2 separate regions of the Homo sapiens genome follow, and region 2 is linked to region 1. Evidence: fine-mapped expression QTL. A gene starts in region 1. The other region holds a variant in brackets. All regions are shown on one strand. Distances are between the middles of the regions. Region 1 holds the start of BRSK2 (BR serine/threonine kinase 2). Region 2 overlaps BRSK2 (BR serine/threonine kinase 2).

Region 1 (10,001 bases):
TGCAGGGCAGATGAGGGGTTCAGTCCAGCCCCAGGCTGCTGCTGCCCTGACAAAACAGCTGGGGTCAGATGGCCAGGGCCTGATGTGGGGAAGGCCACAGAATTCCTGGGGTCTCGCAGCAGACACCCCACGCTGAGTCCACCTTCACCTTCATGGCTGGGGAGGCTGCCGGGTCCTGTCTACCCATGCGCTCTCCGGGCTCAGCCCTGCACAGCCCATCTCCAGGGGCCCATCTCCAGGACCCATCTCCATGGCCCATCTCCAGGGGCCCATCTCCAGGACCCATCTCCAGGACCCATCTCCAGGACCCATCTCCATGGCCCATCTCCAGGACCCATCTCCAGGACCCATCTCCATGGCCCATCTCCAGGGGCCCATCTCCAGGACCCATCTCCAGGACCCATCTCCATGGCCCATCTCCAGGACCCATCTCCAGGACCCATCTCCATGGCCCATCTCCAGGGGCCCATCTCCAGGACCCATCTCCAGGACCCATCTCCATGGCCCATCTCCAGGGACCCATCTCCAGGACCCATCTCCAGGACCCATCTCCAGGGGCCCATCTCCAGGACCCATCTCCATGGCCCATCTCCAGGACCCATCTCCAGGACCCATCTCCATGGCCCATCTCCAGGACCCATCTCCATGGCCCATCTCCAGGACCCATCTCCAGGACCCATCTCCATGGCCCATCTCCAGGGGCCCATCTCCAGGACCCATCTCCAGGACCCATCTCCATGGCCCATCTCCAGGACCCATCTCCATGGCCCATCTCCAGGACCCATCTCCAGGACCCATCTCCATGGCCCATCTCCAGGGGCCCATCTCCAGGACCCATCTCCATGGCCCATCTCCATGGCCCATCTCCAGGACCCATCTCCAGGACCCATCTCCATGGCCCATCTCCAGGGGCCCATCTCCAGGGGCCCATCTCCATGGCCCATCTCCAGGACCCATCTCCAGGACCCATCTCCAGGACCCATCTCCATGGCCCATCTCCAGGGGCCCATCTCCAGGACCCATCTCCATGGCCCATCTCCAGGGGCCCATCTCCAGGACCCATCTCCATGGCCCATCTCCATGGCCCATCTCCAGGACCCATCTCCAGGACCCATCTCCATGGCCCATCTCCAGGGACCCATCTCCATGGCCCATCTCCAGGACCCATCTCCAGGACCCATCTCCAGGACCCATCTCCATGGCCCATCTCCAGGGGCCCATCTCCAGGGACCCATCTCCATGGCCCATCTCCAGGACCCATCTCCAGGACCCATCTCCAGGACCCATCTCCAGGACCCATCTCCATGGCCCATCTCCAGGGGCCCATCTCCAGGACCCATCTCCAGGACCCATCTCCATGGCCCATCTCCAGGGACCTGCACACCACAGCCCATCGCTGCCCGTCCTGCTCAACTTTCTAAACAGACCCCATCTCAGACCAGCTTCCTTCCCCTCCACATCTGCCTCCAGCTTCTGGGCCTGGGGTCACCCCCAGGGTCTCCCAGGCACAGGCTCTCCCTCCCCTCACCTGTTCCATCTTCAATGACTCCTCCCATCCCAGGACCCCTCTCCACCCTGGCAGCCACCAGGGCTCAACCTTCCTAAAGGCCATTGAGAACATGGAGGGGCGGCCCCAGGTCCCTGGCAGCCTAGGTCCCTCCCCCACGCCACAGCAGGTGAACACTGCCAGGTGAGCTGCAGGGCAGCCCCTCATCCTAGCTCCTTCGTTCCCTCGCAGGGAGCCCTATCGCGGCCATTATTCCTTTCTCCCGCCCCCCAGACAGAGGATTCCCGAAGGCAGGCCCCTCATCGTCCCATGCAGCCCACCCGCCTGCCCCCAAGAACAGCTCCAAGGGCCCGAGGTTCTCCAGCTCCTCCCACAGGGCCCTCCCAGGCCTCCCAGATTTCAGGAGCTAAGCCGAGGTTTGGGCAAGAAGGTGCCCTGCTCCACGTACTGATGGGGCACAGGGACAAAGGCGCGCAGGGACAAAAGCCACCCAGCCCGTGCCACACACCCTCCTGGACCTGCATGCTCCAACTCGGAGTGTCTGCGCCCTCCAACCTCCATGGTTGCCCTTGCTGGCAGGGACTGTGTCTCGGCATCTCTGCAGGGGTCAAGCTCAGATGAGGCTACACAAGCCTTTCTCAGCCCCAAGAAAAGCTAAGGCAGCACCTTTGCAGGTGGGTTCCCACCCCAACCCCAGCCTACATCCCCCTAAGTCTTGGCCAGAAACCACCAAGCAGCCGGCGAGGAGGCTTCCACAGATGCTCAGTGCTCTGACGGCTTCACCTGGTGCCTGGCACCGGCAGTGAGACCACTGAAGGCAACCCCCACAGCCACCGAGGGGAGCTGTGCAGAGGACGCCCCATGCAGAAGGACGACCCTACAGCCACACTGGCCCTGCAGGACGCACAGACCCAACAAGACAGGGAGGTGCCGTACAGGTGAGACCATGCAGCGCTCACGCTGAAAGGCAGAAGAAGACAGCCGACCGGACCCTGCGGCGTCTAGAAGGGCGTCCTCCAGGCCCCGGTGGGGGTGCTGCGTGGTCTCCCCTCCCCACACGGCCAGACTCCCCAAGGGCAGGTTTCGGACCACATCTTTGGCCCACCGTCCAGCAGGCCCCAGCTTGGGTCAGCCGGGTGGAAGGGCTCTCGTGGCACCACAAGGCTCACTGCCACTGCCACTGACCACCTCCCTCTCAGTGGCCACCTCAAGTCGAGCAGCTCCTCCTTCCAAGGTCTCAGGCTGAGAGAGATGAACAGAGAGGGCCAAACAAAGCTGCCAGCCACAGACACGGGGAAGGGGCTGGAGTCGCGTCCACACCAATGGCCCCCCAAGCAAGGCCTCCACAGCTCCCCTGTGGCCAGGTCCCTGGAAGGAGAAGCGTTCTCAACGGCAGGATCAGATCGTCCTCGGGTGGTGGCGGCCAGAAGCCCAGCCTCCCGTTCTCCCACGGAGGTCTCCTGGCAGGAAGCCTATCTCCCTCTTGAGCTTGGGACCTGGCAGCTCTCCTGGCATCTGGTGCCAAGTGGCCCAGCACACACACTCCAGGCCCCATGTCCACCCAACTCCTGGTGACCCTTCAGCAGCAGCAACAGAAGACGCACAGAAATGGTGGCCTTCTCCAGGGCCCTCCCGGTGACACGCTTGCGCTCTGCCCGTCATAACTCGGGAGAGAGGGGCCGCTTTGTGCCCCCCCTCGAGCTGTTTTCTAAATATCTCTCTCAGCACGTTGTAGACACACACAGCCCATCCTTTTGTATTCATTACTGTTAATTACAGTGGAAACCTCCCGTAATTAACTGCCGCCAGCAGAATGCCATGAAGAGTGGAGACCAGCCCCTACCCACCGAGGCCGCGCACAGCACATAACTCATCGTGTCTTCATTTACACGCAGATGTTTCCTTATAATAACATTTTATTGGGACCGTAATTGGATTATCTCACTGACTCCTGCATCCTGCTGCCCTGGGCCCCTCCTTCACCACGGATTTCACACACTAGTTTTTCTTTCCGGGAAAGACGAGAATTTTGAACTCAGGTGACATGGGCTGAATGCCACCTCCTTCTCCAACCCAGGCTGCACCACCCCACCTGCCCAGGTCCTGCCCTGTGGCCAGGGGCCCTTCCGTGCCGTGGCGGGTGGCGGAAGGCTGTGCACCCAAGGTGAGGCAGCTCCCCTGAACCCCTCAGTCTAAACCCCTTCCTGCAGCTCTGCCGTAGTTACATCACAGCCACGGCCCTCCCCCAAGAGCCTGGGCCTGGCCCACTTTCTTTCCCCAACGCCACCTCCCAGCTCCTCCTCTGTGCAGCCGTGAGGGGCTGAGCCTCCACCCTGCACCAGCGCTCTCCTCCTCCTTCCCTCCACCCCTGCCCGCCCGGGTCTAAGGAACTTCTCGGATTGGAAGGGAGAGGCAGTGCCGTGGGACCTCGGGGACACCAAGAGACAGGCCGGTCCTGAGAGAAGAAAGAAAATGGCTGAGCCCCAGCCTCCACAAAGGCGACTCTGTGAATGTGCCTGACCAGATGAAGGGCTAGCCAAACCCAGCGGGCCGGGGAGAGTTGGCCACATGCGAGGGTAGCTGGGTTGCCTCTGGCCTGGGTTCGGCCCCGCAGGGACCCGGCCTGTTCCCTAGAATGACAGCCAGGCCCCACCGGGAAGCCCCCTCCACCGGCAGGCCGCGGGGCTGCTCCACGGGTCAGGTCCCACGCACTTCTGGTCCCAGCACCAATGGCCTCTCCCTGCCCCGTGGGAATGCAGGTCACAGACGCTCCGCCCGCCCGAGCCCGAGCCGGAGCAGCGCAAGGCGCTGTCCAGCCCTCTGCAGGTCCCCGCACTCTCCCGCCCCCACCGCGGAGGGAGATCGGGCCTGCCCGGAGGCCCCGGTGGCCGGCGCGCGGAGGTGGGAGTCCCGCCGGGGGCGCAGCTGCTCGGGCAGCACGCCTATTAGCGCGGCCGCGGCAGACGGCAGATGGGCGCCCGCGCGGCCCCCTCCTCCCGCGGCACAATGGGCCCGGTCGCTGGGGCGCACAATGCGGCCCGGGCCGCGCACCTGCAGCGGGGCCCGAGGGGCGCCGTCCCGTGCGCCCCTGTCCGCCTGCGCGCCCCGCGCCGCGCCGCGTGTCCTTGGGCCGCGCCCGGCCGACCGCAGCCAAGCGGCCTGCGGGATCCGCGGCGGAACCGGGGCGCACGAGCGGACGGGGGCGCACGGGCCGCCCATTGTTCGCGGCCGGGGCCCGGGCCGGGCCTGCGGCTTCGCGGCCGGGGCCTCCCTCGGGCGCCCCCCACCCAGCGCGCTGCCAGCGCGGCCTCCCCGGCCCCGGTCCCCGCCCCGGCCGCACGCACCTGTCTGCCCCTTGCCCAGCGTCTTCTCCAGCCGGTAGGGCCCAACATACTGCGCGTGCTGCGCGCCGCCGTCCTTCCCCGTCGATGTCATCGCTCTGGGGCCCGGCGCCGGCCAGGGGCGCCCGGGCGCGCGGGCAGGGAGGGGCCGCCCAGCGTCCGCCCGCGTCCGCCGAGTGCCGTCCGCGCCGACCCGGCCGGGGCGCCCCCGCGGGCCCCGCTGCTTCGCGCCGCCCGCGTCCGCCCGCGCCGCCGCCCCCCGCGTCCACTCCGACGCGGCAGTCCGAGGCCTGGCCCGCGGCGACGCCTCCGCCTCGTCGAGAGGACAGGGCGGGCGGGGGCACCTGGCTTCCGCCGCCGCCGCCGCCGCCGCCGCCGAGGCCCGCGCCCCGCGCCCCGCGCCCCCAGCGCACGCCCGTCAGCGGCCGCGCAGCCGAGCCGAGCCGAGCCGAGCCGAGCCGTGCAGCTGAGCCGAACAGCCGAGCCCAGCAGCCGAGCCGAGCCGAACAGAGCCGAGACGAGCCGAGCCGCGCAGCTGAGCCGAACAGCCGAGCCCAGCAGCCGAGCCGAGCCGAACAGAGCCGAGCCGCGCAGCCGAGCCATGTAGCCAAGCCGAACAGCCGAGCCCTGTAGCCAAGCCGAACAGCCGAGCCGAACAGCGGAGTCGAGCGCAGCTGAGGGGAGCCGAGCCGGGCCGCGCAACGGAGCCGAGTCGACACGAGCCTGTACGAACGCAGCGGGATGCCGTGGCGGCGGCAAGCGGTGCCCGCGCCGGCCAATCAGCGCCTCCCCACCCCGCCCCGCCGCTACGAGCGCTCGGGGAGACTCTAGGGGGCGAGGCGAGGCCAGGGCGAGGCCGGGACCTGGGAGCCTCCAGCCCGCCGGCTGCCACGTCCGGTCCCACCAGGCAGCAGAGCTCCCGCTGCCGCCCGACCCGCCATTAAGGCGCATCCCGGGACGGAGCAGGCAGTGGGCCCATGGCGAGGGGGTGCAGATGGCTGCCCTGGACGGGGGTTTTACCCTGCAGGGCGTGACCCCGGGTGTCCCAAAGAGTTTCCCGCCCCTCGAGGGGGTGCTGCACGCGCGGGGGATGGGGATGCTGCCCTGGAGGGGGGCGAGTGTTGCATGCGGGGCGGGAGTGCTGTACTGGGGAGAGGTGCTGTATTCGGGGCAGGGGTGCTGCACACATGGGGGGTGCTGCACGCCAGCGAGGGGCATGCTGCGCTGGAGGGGGCGGGTGTTGCATGCAGGGCGCGGATGCGGCACACGTGGCGGGGGGGCTGCATGGGAGTCTGTGGGGCTACTGCACGCGGGCGTTGTCCAAGCAGAGATTGTGCACCCCCAGGGAGGACGTGGCCCTCCGCCTCCGCTCCCGAGGGAGAAGCGGCGGTTTTCCCAGTTATGCCACAGTGACCTGCGCGGCGCGGAGTCAAGGAACTCACCTGGGATCCGGCCGCAGCGCCCTGGCGCCTCCCGGCCCTTGCTACCGACCCCTCTTTCAGGTTGAGCAGCTGGGCAGGGGTTGCCGGGAGCAGCCTTTGGAGGTCTAAACACAGGCAGCCGAAGAGGCAGCCAGACCTGGACGGACCCTCTGTTTCTTTGCAGAAAAACACTGGTATTTCCTTAAGCCCGTGCTGCAGAAGGTGGTGGGAGGGGAGAGGTGAGGGAGACCCGGAACGCTGCAGAAGTGGGGGTCCCAGATCTTGCCCGTGTATGGTCTGCGGGCAACGTTTCCCCTGCGGGCTCTGCCACACACTGCTGCTGACCGTGGTCCGCTCCCCACGCTGGTAAGCCCGTATGAGCTCAGGAAACTGCGGGGTCTTCCCAGTGCGCCCTCCTGCTCTTTGGGCTGTCTGTATTTCCAGCTGGGGAGGGGAGTGGGCCCCAAAGCACCTGTCCACTCTCGGCCTGCACCCGCCCGCCCTGCTTCCCTTCAAATGCTGTGGACTAAGGGTCCTCCCTACCCAATTCTGGGGCCTCTGAGCATGAGCAATCAGGGCCCCACCAGTGGGGGCAGGGGAGGGGGGCTGAGAGCATGGGACAGAGGCAGAGGGCACTCCCCTTTCCCCCGCTGCTGCTGCTGTGAGTGGGGACAGCAGACATTTTTAGCTGAATGTAGACTGGGACCTCCAGCTGGAGAAACTGTCAAGCAGTGAGGTCTGGCTGGAGGCTGACTGGGAGTGGTCTGGTCCAGGTGCCAACAGAGGCCGAGGGTGTGCAGGAGACCAGGAGAGGGCGTCAGGCCACAGCCAGAGGGCAGGGGCACTTGACCTGAGATGCCCTCTCTCTGCTGCCATGGTCACCTGGCCTCCCAGGCTGCAGCAGAGTCAGACGCACCTTTGTGACATCCTCAGCAGCATTTTGCCCTATTGACCGTTTGCATCCGGCTACTCCAGTGGCCAAAATTCTTGCTTTCTTCCTTCCCACCTCCTTGCCAGCCTGCATCCCTCTCCCAACCCTCACTGCAGCCCTGAGGCCTTTTCTTCCCTGTCTGTGTCTGAGCAGCCTATGCCATTGGTGGCCTCTGGGGCTCAGTCTGGGGCCTCTCTTCTGGCTCCCTGCCTGTCCTCCGGGCGCAAGAGGCTAGTCAGCCTTCAGCCTCTTGAGTGCCTATCCTCAAATCGCCCTCCCAGCCTCCCTTGGCCCTGCTGTCCCCTCTTGAAGGTGCTGCACAAAACCCCAGACTCAACGCCTTCTCCATAGCACGCCGCGCCCTCCCTGCTGCCATCTTTGTGGGGATCAACAGGATGACTGCCCTTCCTTCCAGCGGGCCTGGTACTGGGGTGCCCCAGGAGAGGGTGTACCAGGGTGTGGCCAGCCAGTAGATGCCCACGACTGTGATGCCACAGCCCTCGGTCCCCCTCTGTCGCGTGTAAGGTGGGAGCAGGAGCCCCAAAGGAGCCAGGGCTCTCGAGCACGAAGGTCTGTTGCCGGAGTTAGGAAAGGGCCCAGTCTCACAAAGACGTCCAGGCCAAGACTCACCAGTGGAGCCCACCAAACACTAATGGAGGAAAAGCACCCCGCTACACAGACACTTCCAGGACACAGAGGAAGACGGGCCATGTCCCAGCTCCTCTGTGAAACTGTCATCACCCTGGTGCCAAAACCATGCAAGGACATGACAAGAAAATTAAAGTCCACTCAGGAGCCTAGACACAAAAATCCCTTAACAAAACATCAAATCAATTCCAGCAATATATAAAGAGAACACATATGACCTTGTGGAGCGTACCCGGGAATGCAAAGTTAGTTTAACATTTCAAAATCAATTGTCATTCACTATTAGCAGACCAACACAGAAAAACCACACGGTCATTTCCACAGATGCAAGGAAAGCATTCAACAAAATTCAGCACTCATTCACGACAAAGGCTCTCAGTAAACCAGGAGGAGAAGATTCGAATCTATTCTGCTCCTGCACTCCCAACCCAACAAAGGGAAACTACAAAAACCCACAGCTAATGTCAGGCTTAGTGGTGAGAAACTGAAAGCTTTTCCTTGGGTCAGGGATGGGGCAAGGTTGTCCATCATCATCATTTATTTCAGTGTCGTGCCAGAGTACATGCCGAAGTAATGAGGCAAGGAAGACAAAATTTGTACCAGTTGAAAAGGAAATTTTTTATTATTATTATTATTTTTTTTTTTTTTTTGAGATGGAGTCTTGCTCTGTCGCCCAGGCTGGAGTGCAATGGCCCGATCTCGGCTGACTGCAAGCTCCGCCTCCCGGGTTCACGTCATTCTCCTGCCTCAGCCTCCCAAGTAGCTGGGACTACAGGTGCCCGCCACCACGCCCGGCTAATTTTTTTTTATTTTTAGTAGAGGCGGGGTTTCACCGTGTTAGCCAGGATGGTCTCGATCTCCTGACCTCATGATCCACCCGCCTCGGCCTCCCAAAGTGCTGGGATTACAGGCGTGAGCCACCGTGCCCAGCCAAAAAGGAAATTTTAGGTGATCTTTATTAGAAGATAACATTAATGGCCGGGCACGGTGGCTCACGTCTGTAATCCCAGCACTTTGGGAGGCTGAGGCGGGCAGATCACCTGAGGTCAGGAGTTCGAGACCAGCCTGGCCAACCTGGTGAAACCCTGTCTCTACTAAAAATACAAAAATTAGCTGGGTTTGGTGATGGGCACCTGTAATCCCAGCTACTCAGGAGGCTCAGGCAGGAGAATCGCTTGAACCCACGAGGCAGAGTTTGCAGTGAGCCGAGATCATGCCATTGCACTCCAGCCTGGGCAACAAGAGCAAAACTCCATGTCAGAAAGTAAAACAAGAAGATAACATTATTGTCTGCAGAAAATTCTAAGCTACAAACTGGTACTAAAACGAATAAGTAAGTTTACCAAAGCCACAGGGTACAAAGCCAAAAAAAGGTCAATTCTATTTGTGTGCTAACCATCAATTAGAAGTTGAAATTATGAAAACAGTACCACTTACAAAGAGAATTTAAAAACCACGAAATACTAGGGGTAAATTTATCAGAATTTGCATGAGATCTGTACACAAAAAACGATTATACATCTCTCAGTATATTAAGTGAGACTTAACAAGGCCCAAGTAATCGATTTAATTTTAATTTGATTTTTTAAATTTTCTCTTTTTTTTTTTTTTTTTTTTTAGAAATTGACAAGCTGCCAGGTGCAGTGGCTCATGCTTGTACTGCCAGCACTTTGGAAGGCCAAGGTGGGAGGATAGCTTGAGCCCAGGAATTTGAGACCAGCCTGGGCAGCATAGCAAGACTCCATCTGATATAGTTTGGGTATTTGTCCCCGCCCAGACATATGTTGAAATGGAATCTTCAGTGTTGGAGATGGGGCCTGCTGGGAGATGTTTTGGTCATGGGGTGGATTCCTCGGGGCTTGGTGCTGTCCTTGCAATGGTGAGTATTCGTGAGATCTGGTTAAGTGGGAGCCTCCCCTCCCACTCTCTCTTGCTCCCACTTCTGCCGTGTGAGACCCCTGCTCCCCCTTTGCCTTCCACCGTTATTGGAAGCTTCCGGATGCCATGCTTCCTTTACAGCCTGCAGAACCATAAGCCAATTAAACCTCTTTTTAAAATAAACTACCAGTCTCAGGTATTTATAGCAACACAAGAACAGCCTAACACATTATCTCTATGAAAAATAAAAATAAAATAGCCAGGCATGGCTACAC
Region 2 (10,001 bases), 64 kb before region 1:
GCCACCTGGGCAGCAGCCGGACCTCCAGCAGCCTGAGCCTGAGCCTGGATATGGCCGGTGCCCTGGGTGGGCCTAGCCCCTCCCCTGGGCTGACAACTCTGCCCTGGCCGTGGCCTGCATCCTCACTGTGCCACTCAGCAGCTCCAGGGCCCTGTGGCTTCCGGCTGCCCTTCAACTCAAGGCAGGCACCCTCTTCCTCGGCCCTCTTCCCTACTGCTGGGCCTGGGGATGTTGGTGCTGCCAGTCCAGGACTGGGGTGGGAGCAAGGCCCTGGGAGGGGCTACTCCCTCAAGGCCCTCACTGGCGCCTGCACAGGGTGGACACACGCCCTGGTCTGCCTGTGCCTGCTCACTGGGGGCTCTCAGCCTCCCCTCCCTCGGCCGCAGTCTCTGGGGGGGTGGGCAGTGTCTGAGGAGGCCCCCTGCTGGCTAGCCACCTTCCACACATCCTTGGAGCTGGGCTCACTGGACAAAAGCATCCAGTGTGGGAGGGGGGCAGGGCTGGGAAGGGCTGGGCGTAGCGAGATCACGGGGATAGGCTGGGCTCCCCAAGTCCACAGGGAGATAGATGGGGCCCAGAATAGACCCCCAAGAGCCTCTGCAGTGGGCTCCACTGAGGTCAGGGTCCGGGGCAGGAATGGAGAGGGGCTTGGAGTTGGCTCCAGGGGAGTGCTGCGTGCTGACAGGCGGTACCACACTTTAAGGGGCCAGGCTGGGGGAGCTTTGCCTACAGCCCACGCAGGAGCGCTCGACTGAGGCACCCAGATGGCTGCTCAGGTGCGGGGACACCCTGGGCAGTACCCCGGGGCCCGTTTCTGCTTGCCCTACCAGACAAGCCCTGTCCATCCCTGGCCTAGGTGGCTGCCCTGTCGTTCCCTGGCCTCGGTTTCCCTTCCTAAGATGAAGGCTTTCAAGGCTCAGAGAGCCAGAGGCTGCTGCCGGCCGACGGCATGGCCTCCGCTGTAGGGAAGCGCCACGTGTACCTGCGGGGCCGAGCACCTGGAACCCTGCTCCTCCTTACCCGCTGTGCCAGCCTGGCTCCCAAAATCAGGAGAAGGGGGCTACTCCTCCACCCACTGGGGCTTCGGTTAGGGCCAGGGCTGTTGGGGACCTCAGCCCCCAGCCCGCAGCAAGGTGAAGCACACTCTGGGGGGGCTCCCACAGGTGATGGCATGATGATGGAATGAGGATGTCATGGGGAGGGGCAGTGGGGCCCTCTTTGGCTTCCAGGACCCCACATGGAAACACAGGAGGTGACCCTAGCATGCCACGGAGCTGCTGAGATGCAGGCTGGGAGAGGGGACCCCCAGGGTCCAGCCGGGTGCTCCCCCACGACGCCCAGCGCCCCCACGCCGTACCAGCGTTCAGAGGCACACCCACACCCCCTTGCTGACAGACCAGGCCCATGCATGTGCCCAGTGCTCCGCCCTGCCCCCACCACACATGGGCCCAGGGGAGTGGGGGGAGCCCTCCCTGCCGTATGCCGAGTGGCACGGACCCTCGGGTCCTAGACCCTGGTGGTTCCAGGCTGGGGCAACCCTCCCCTGTGTGAGCCCATCAGGCTGTGGTGAAGCCCCCGCTCTGGCTGGGCTCAAGCCCCTCTGCCCTGCTGGAGGCATGACCCTGGGCTGTCAGGAAGTATGGAGAGATGAGAAGTCACAGCCCGTCAGGCAGCCCGCGGCCCTCCTAGGGTGCCATGGCGGGGAGTCCCGAGGGCAGGGCCTTGTCACTGCTCTCCCAGGTCCTGTGCAGGCTGCCCTAGCAGATGGGCCGCCCGGGGCATGCTTGGCCTGTCCAGGGCCGAGACCTGTGGGTGGGCATGGAGGGCCCTGCTCAGGGCCAGCCTGGCTCCGCCGAGGACCTGCCCGCAGCCCCTCCCCGCCCCAGCACAGGCCGGGCGCCTTACCTGCCAGCGTCAGAGGCTACTCTCGTAGCTGGTGGCCACCTTCTGGCCCTTAAGCCCAGCACCCCAGCTTAGTCCTGGCGCTGGTGGGGGGGGTTCTACGGTGGACAAGAGGCGCCTTTCAGTGTGGTGCGGCTGCGCCCTATGTCCCTGGCGTGCAGAGGCGAGGCGGGTGGTCCCGCCAGGCCAGGGAGGGGCTCTGCTCCCTGAGGGGTGCAGCCACAGCTCGGGGCAGGGAGGTGGGGGCGTCCGTCAAGAGGGGCCAGGAGGCTGCGCCCGGGTCCTCACGCCTCCCGTCCGCGCAGCACCAGCTGGCCACGCCCCACTCGCAGGCCGCAGGTTGGCCGGAGCTGAGCCCGCCTCACCTGACAAGTGCTGGGCCGCAGGCGGGTCGTGTGTGCTCAGCAGCTGGGCCTGGATGGTCTCCACCACCCTCTTGAAGCGACGGCTGGGGCCTAGGGGAGACAGGGGGTTATGCCCTGGACGGGCCTGGGCCCGGAGCCGCCCTGGGGGCGCCAGCTCACCTGAGAGCAGGGTGAAGGTGACGGAGTAGATGCCGTTCTCCTTCTGCGCCTCCCCACCCTCCGTGTAGGTGATATCAACCTGGAACTTGACCGGCTTCTGGAACACGGCTGGCCCCCCCGTGGCCTTGTACTCGGCCCGGAAGCTCGTTTGGGAGATGACGCTGTGGCTGAGACTGGGAATCTGTGGAGAGAGAGCAGCGTGAGCGTGGCTGGCCTGGCAGGTCCCACCCTGGCCCTCTGGGGAGGCAGCCCTGGGGCGAGCCAGCCCCACCGTGCACACATTGTGAGCACCCAGGCACCTCTGCTTCCGTGAGGGGCACAGTGCGGTTGGAGACGGCTGGAGCAGGGGGAGGGGCGTTTCCAGCCCCCACCCTCCAAAGCTTTGGTCCACTTAGCGGGCACAGCTAAGCCCCTGCCGGGCTTTTCTCAGGCAGCCACAGCACAGGATGACCAGGACCTTACAGAGGAGCCTTAAGGGCAAAGATGGAGGTGGAAGGTGACCCCTGCAGCCTGAGGTGGGGGTCCAGGGTGGAGCTGAGTGGGAGGTGGGGGGTCTGGGAGCTGCCACTGAGAGGGAGGTGCAAGGGCGGGGCTGGGGCTGTGCCCTCCTGCTGGGGCTTCCTGGGACTCCCACTGGTTGCGGGACCTATGGTGCTGGGCACTGGCTGGGTGGGCTTCACAGTACCGAGGGGGCAGCTGCAGGAAGCAGAACTCAGGGCCACCCAGCGCACAGGGCCCAGGCTGGCACACAGCCGCCTCACTGGGGCCGGCATGGGGAGGGGCTGAGTCTGAGGTTAGCCGTGGCAACCAGGGGCAGCATGAAGGGATGTGGTGAGGGAGGAGGCCGAGGAAGTGAGCAGCCTGTGGGGACGGGGACGGGGACGCTGAGGACCCCTGAGGCCAGGGTCCAAGTGCAGTCTGAGGCCTGCCCTGCCCAGCGCTGGGCTCTCCTGGCCCTGGAGCCTTCTGCAGGGGCTCCAAGCTGTCCCCACAGCGTAAGGGAAGCTCAGCTGCAGCCAGGGCAGCAGTGGCCTGAGTGCCCGGGGGCAGAGCATATGGTGGGGTGGGGGCCAGTCCCTAGCTAGAGAGGCTGCCGAAGCGAACCACGGCCTGATCTTGCCAAGACCCTGGGGCCAGGGAGGGCGCCCGGGCAGTGGTGAGCACAGGGCAGGACAGCAGCCCTGGGGAGGCAGGCTGGGGGCGGTGGGGGAGGCGGGTGGGGGGCAGCCCCTGTGATGCCTGGGCGCTGGGTGCAGCACAGGGTGGGGCAGGGCCGGCAAGGAAGGGGCGTCCTGATGGGACTGGGTGCTGGAGTCCTGGCAATAAACTTTCTCCATTTGAGGCTTTTAGGGCCTTTCTGCTCCTCCTAACCCAAAGATGCCCAGCAAAGACAAATGAAGCCCACCCAAGACCCCGAGCGCGACCACTCTGTGGAGAGCCACCCGGCCTCCGAGGGCAGGGTGAGACCAGGGAAACTGAGACACCTGAGGGCTGGGGCTGTCCACTGAGGGCCAGCAGAGCCCCAC[C/T]GGTCCCTAGGGCCATGGCCTCACAAGGGCTTCTCCCCGAGTCTGATGGAAATGTCCCCCTCTGAGACCCACCCAGCTGGAGCCTTCCTTCTGCCCCACGTGCCAGCTGCCCAGGCCTGTCCGGCACACACCTAGGGCTGCTGGGGACCAGTGAGCAAAGCCCTGACTCCCTCCGCAGGCCAAGCACCCCAGATGGGCAGTGACCCCTCCCTCACGAGGGTGGGCAGGAGAGAGCGCCTGTCCAGTGAAGGCGGCCAGGCAGGCCCACGGGTGAGCGGACGTCCGTGCTGTGCGCGTGGACATGTCCTGTCTACGTGAGGAGGCTGGATTCTCGGGGCTGGGCCGTGTGGGGTTGGGAGGGCTGCCCGCCTCCCCCAGCGCCCTGTGGCCTCACCGACAGGAAGGCGTGCACGATGTCAGCCTTGATGGAGCTCAGAGGTTTGTCTTTGATGACCACGAAGATCTGCTCCTCCTTCTCCAGGCTGATGAAGTTCCCAAACCAGGACTTCTTCGCCAGCCTGGGCAGTGGGAGACAGAGGCTGTGAGGATTGAGGTGTGGCACCGTCCACACCCCTGCCTCCCTCGAATCTGGGGTTGGAACGGCGGAATCTTCCATCGCTTCGTGATAGAAACGGCTGTCTCCACAGTGCTAGCCAGAACCCATGGCCCTGACCCCAACGCCCTAACCCTAGCCCATATGCCCTGACCATCACCGTGGCTCTAACCCCAACCCCAACCCTAACCTTTCTCCAAGCCCTAACGCCCTGACCCTGGCCCATATGCCACCCACTCCCAAGTCTGGGGATGCCCCTCCACAGGTGAGCCCCCCACAGGTGAGCCCCCCCTCACCAAGGCCGCTGTGAGAGGTGGCTCAAGCTGGGCTCCTGAAGTCAGCTGTGCCCCCCACCCCCAGGAGCAGGCGGGGCCTGCAACTCGCTTCCAACAGGAGAGTGGGGAGGCGCTTCTGAGGCCACAGAAGGCTACTCCTGTCTTGCTGGCAGGCTCACCCCAACATGCAGAGGCCCTCTGCTCTCCAGCTCAAGAGCACCCGAACCCCACCCACCAGCGCGGGGGCCAGGAAGCCCAGCCGTGAGAGGACCATGGCCAGAGGCGCCTCTAGCACAGCCCGAGACTCAGGCAGAGCGCGCCTGGGTGGCTGTTCAGAGGTGGCACGCTCTGCTGGCGTCCCCTGCCGTTGCTGCCTGGAGGTGGAACCAGGTGTGCTGAGAGGCAGAGGCAGGGACCGGGAGGAGGGGCCAGCAGGGCTGGGGCTCAGTGGTGCCCTCTCCCGACTGATTCTGAGGCCCCTCCCAGCGGCCTCACAACTCCCCTTTCCCTTGCCCATTCCTGGAGCTGCCTCCTCGGCCACTGTGCGGCCTGGGAGTCCTGCCGGACAAGCACGGGGACCAGGTCCAACCCTCACTCAGCCCCTCGACGCCTCCTCAGTGTCCTGCCGGTCTCGGCGGCTGTCTGTTCTGGGTTCAAAACTCCGAGGGCCACCACTGGCCCTGACCTTACCCCAGCCCCATGCCAGGGCCTGGAGCCAGGAAGTGCACAAAGCAGCCTGGCAGTTCTGGAAGCACAGGTGAGTTTCTACATGGTCGATGTTCTGCCCGATGAAGAGACAGGACAGATGGTACAAACGTGACTCTCTGCTTTGCGGCCCAGGGGTGCAGCATTTGGCAAAAATAGTCCCATGTGTGAAAGATGCCTGACGGCCCAGGGAGGCCAGGCCGACGAGGGGTGAGGGGCCTGCACTGTGACTCCAGCACCCACGTGGTGGGCAGTGCACAGCCTGGCCGGACACTAGTCTGGGTGTTGCTATGAAGCTATTTTTAGATGAGACGAACTTAAATCAGTCGCCTGTTGAGTCTGGCGGGGGACCCTTCCTCACAGGGTGGGTGCATCCGCCAGGTTCGGTCTTCCTGGGGAAAGAACGCCCCTCGAGGCTGCAACCTGGAAACTGCCTGGGCTTCCAGCTAGCACTTCAGACTCAAGGACATCAGCCCTGAGTGTCCCAGACAACCGCATGCATCCCTTCCTGAAGCCAGCTGCCTCCCTTGGTGCTGTTCCTCTGGGGTGCCTGGTTGACATGGGGCTGGCAGCAGCTGGGGCTGGGGGTTATCTCAGGTCCCCAGCAAGCGAGTTGTCGCCAAAGAGGGACTGTGGGAGGCATCCGTGCTGGACCCTCGTCCAAGGCGTCTGTGCAGGACCCTCAATAAGGGCTGTCACAGGCATCTGTGCCGGGCCCTTGGGTGGGGCTGTGGGAGGTGTCTGTGCTGGACCCTCGGGAACGGCTGTCGCAGGCATCTGTGCCGGGCCCTTGGGTGGAGCTGTAGGAGGCATCTGTGCTGGACCCTTGGGAAGGGGTGTCTGTGCCGGGCCCTTGGGTGGGGCTGTGGGAGGCATCCGTGCCGGACCCTTGAGAGGGGTCAGGGCCTCCAGGCCATCTCAAGATGGGGGAGGGGAGAAGCGCAGGCAGCCACAGTGGCATCAAAGCCACCTTCTCGGCTTTGATGTTTTCCACCTTCTCTGAGGAAGATAATTATGAGTCTGTTCATGAAAGCTTTTGGTAGCAGCAGAAACGGCAATGTCAGGGCCTAGGCGGAAGGTTCCCAAGTCTGCTGAGCCCTGTGCATCTGGGCTTGCGACAATACCTACACACCTCCGACCTGGGCACCCAGCTGGAAGGGCCACCTGATCGGCGCAGAAAGGCCACTGGGTGGAATCCTGGCACAGGCTGCAGATGCTGCTCCTGGGGCTTAGCACTGAGCAGTTTCCACAGGGGCCCCTGGTTTAAAGCCAGCAGCAGGACGAAGGTTCTCGTCTTACTCAGTCCACAGCTGGCCACATCTTCATTTCCCGGGGTCTCCTGTGAAGTGACTCCAGCCTGACCGCCGCTCTCTGCCGCTGCCTGGCCTGGGGTCACGCTGCAGGCTCATATGTGTACACCGCCAGTCGCCTGGTCTCCGAGACACTGCCCAGTGACTGAGGCCATCGTGGAGAGGAGGGAGAGGGCCTGGGCGCTGGGAAGGGGTCTCTCTGGGGACATCTTTGTCCAGACACCAGTCACAGCGGCCCCCAGGGCATCTCAGCACCTGGGCGCTGTAGAGTCTCTGCAGTGGCACCTCTCACGGCTCAGAAAGGCGGCGGGGCCAGACCTCGGCTTGGCTGCTCCGCTCCGCCCCTGCACACGTGTTCCCACCAGGCCTGCTGCCCCTTTGTTCTTAACACGGGCTGCTTTCTCCTTGAGACCTGAGCGACCCGGTCTCTGCCCTTGGCGAGCTCAGGCCCTGGGGAGACTCTGCCCAGTGTACCCCCTGCTCGCCTCCAGCCAACCCTAGGCTCTCCCAAGGCCTGAAGCTTCTCAACAGGGCTGGGGGCTCCTCCCCTGGCTGGCCTTCCCCTCACAGCCGGGAATTCGAACTTCAGAGACTCAGTGGCCGAGACGGGCCTGCCTGCAGTGGGAGGTGGGGCCACGTGGAGAAGGAGCACCCCGTTGGCCATAGGGGAAGGGTTCCATGCCCCTCTCCCGGCCAGCCTGGTGTCAGGTACCAGGAGGCCTCCAGCAGGGGCCACTTACTCTGGGGACGACTCTGGTGTCAGGTTGGACATCTCCTCCGGCGTCGGAACTGTGCACACAGGATGAACAGGAGGAAAGGCGTGGTGACCGCTCCATCCTTCCCCTGCCCTGGCCACCTTGCGCCGAGGTCAGGGTCATCAGGAGTCCACCCACACACACTGGGACAGCCCCCCCAGGGGCACTGGTCCACCCCAGCTCCCGGCCACCTTAGAGGCCCACTGGCAGTGGCGCCCCCCAGGCTAAGGGGAGCTGTCCCCGCCTCTGGTGCTGAAGTCGGCTGTGCCTTCTCCAGCAGCACTGGCTGGCCCTTGGTGCCCCACACATGGGGCCTCCTGACTGGCAGTGCCCCCTCGGTGGCCAGCTCTCCTTGCTGTGTGCCTGGCCCCAGGACACAGAGTGGGTAGACTCAGGAACACAGAATGTCTGGAGGGGATACCAGCCTGTGCGACAGGTAGGACACAGGCTGCTGCTGGGCGCTTTCGGGACAGTGAGACGTGGGCAGGCCCAGGCCACCCCTGCAGCTACAGGCCCCTCGGACTGGTCTGGCACTGCCGGGCGGGGCCCTCCCCAAGGCAGCCTCTGCTCTCTCCCAGCCCCACTCTGGCGCCTCCGGGCAGACACTCACCTTGCAGTTTCCGGCGGTGGAAGCGGGGTGAGCCCAGAAAGCTGTTCTTGATGGAGTTGAGCCGCGCCCTCCAGGGCACCCCTCCGACGCTGGGGCTGGACGGGGGCGTGGGGTTGGGCGTGCCAGCCGGGCTCTCCTTTGGCGTGTGGACAGGTGTCCCCTTGGGGGTGGGGAGGGGACTGCCCCTTGGTGAGGGGTGAGGGGTCACCTGTATGGTGGGGACAGATTTGGTGTTTGGTTCAATCCCGGCGGGTGGGGGCCGGGGGGGCACCCGCAGGGCAGGCGGGCCCAGGGGTGGTGCCAGCTGGGGACAAAGGCCAGTGGCGGGAGGCCGGGCTGGGGTGCTGGCCGGGAAGGGGTTGGACTTGGTGCCCTGCAGAGGCTTGTCGGTCAGCTTGGCCTTGCACGGCAAGGTCTGGGTCTTGGGGTCGGGCCGCAGGGCGGCCTGCAGAGGGAGGACGTGTCCAGGCCTCGAGGCGCTCCCACAAGCTTCGGGCTCCGTGGAGGTGGCCAGGGGGCGGGCCACGAAGGGCGGCTCGGGGGGCGGTGGGGGCAGGACAAGCTTCCTAATAGGCTACGGGGAGGCGCAGGGAGCGAGCGGGGTGGGGGCAGCCGCGCGGCACATGCACCCCAGTCCCCCGCATGCACACGGCACAGGAGGACCAGAAAGAAACAGGCGGGAGCGGGAGGGTGGGGAGGCAGGCAGGCATGGGCAGGAGGATTAGCCACAAAAGAAAAGAAGTGACACACAAGAAAACAAACAAAACAAAACAAAAGAGCGTGCAGTTAGCAGAGCAGCCTGCGCCACAGAGCAGCAGCCGCCACAGGAGCGTGGGCATGGGGGGCGCCTGGGGCTGCTTCCCAGGGTCCGCGAGGCTGCCCCCACCCTGGCACACGCTGACTGGGAGGGTTGGGGCCTCTGTGCATCCGAGCTGGGTGGGGGCGGGGGGTCACTCACCCGGGGGCTGCTGAGTGGGCTGGTGGAAAGGCCTGAGGAGGCACCGCTGATGGACCGAGACCTGGAGGTCACAAGGTACAGGGCCACTGCTCAGCCAGGGGGCAGTGGAGCAGCAGGTGCTGGGCTCTGCTCCCCCCAGGTAAACCCTCCAGGAGGCCTGGAGCCCGGGCCAAGAGCCTCGAGGCCCTGGGTCCTGCTGCACACCCTGTCAATTCAGGAGGGCCCAGGGCGCCTGGCTGTGCCCAGCCCCACTGGGGCCCCCATCAGAGCCCACGTGTGGGGGCCACCCCATGCCAGCAGCCCAGGCACAGCACAGGATACGGCATCAGACAGCCGCGGCAAAGGACCATCCAGCGTGGGGGTGGACGGAAGGACGAGGGGACAGACGGGAGCTTCCTGTATGCAGCCCCTTCTGCTCCAGGCCTCGTGCTGGCTCCAGCCTCCCACCTGCCAAGCCCCCCCTGGCTGAGCTCTCACAGGGCCTGCAGCCTGGTCCTCCATGTCCCTAGATGCCCGTGAGGGATGCCTGGGTCAGCGGCCGGCCCTTCCCTTGTCCACAACCAGGAGGGCCTGGGCAGGGCCAGGCTGGGGCAGCTGCTGGCAGGGACGGTGGGGCCTTGTCCCACCACTGCCCTACTCAGCCTGAGACCTGCACACAGCAGGAGGGAGGCCCTGGCCCGGCGTGCCCGGCTGAGACTCCGGTGTGTGGCCGCCACCCCCGTGCAGGGACCAGGACGGCTGTGCGTCGTTCCACCACACTGCACGGACGAGCCGGCGCCCACGTGCCCAGACAGTGGCAGCTGCCATCCTTGGAGGAAGGAAATGCAGGGAGGGGCCGAGGCAGCCGCCGAAGAGAAGAGGACAGAGAAGAGTAAAAGCCCGG

Evidence for each region. PIP is the estimated chance that this variant, and not a neighbour inherited with it, causes the effect.
Region 2: its variant is fine-mapped to the expression of BRSK2 in lung (GTEx, PIP above 0.99).

What each region holds. Positions count from the first base shown.
Region 1 is chr11:1,385,226-1,395,226 of GRCh38, reverse strand. It overlaps BRSK2 (BR serine/threonine kinase 2), which reads right to left and starts at 5,293. Exons shown (of 20, transcript NM_001256627.2): 1 at 4,852-5,293. The coding sequence starts at 4,942. RefSeq lists a silencer at 5,527-5,896.
Region 2 is chr11:1,448,954-1,458,954 of GRCh38, reverse strand. BRSK2 (BR serine/threonine kinase 2) reads right to left here. Exons shown (of 20, transcript NM_001256627.2): 13 at 9,119-9,179; 14 at 8,161-8,368; 15 at 7,536-7,584; 16 at 4,347-4,470; 17 at 2,427-2,607; 18 at 2,268-2,357. Among named protein-coding and RNA genes, the nearest start is that of MOB2, 33 kb to the left of the region's middle. RefSeq lists enhancers at 413-975, 5,227-5,936. The variant C/T (reference allele first, on the strand shown) is at 3,953.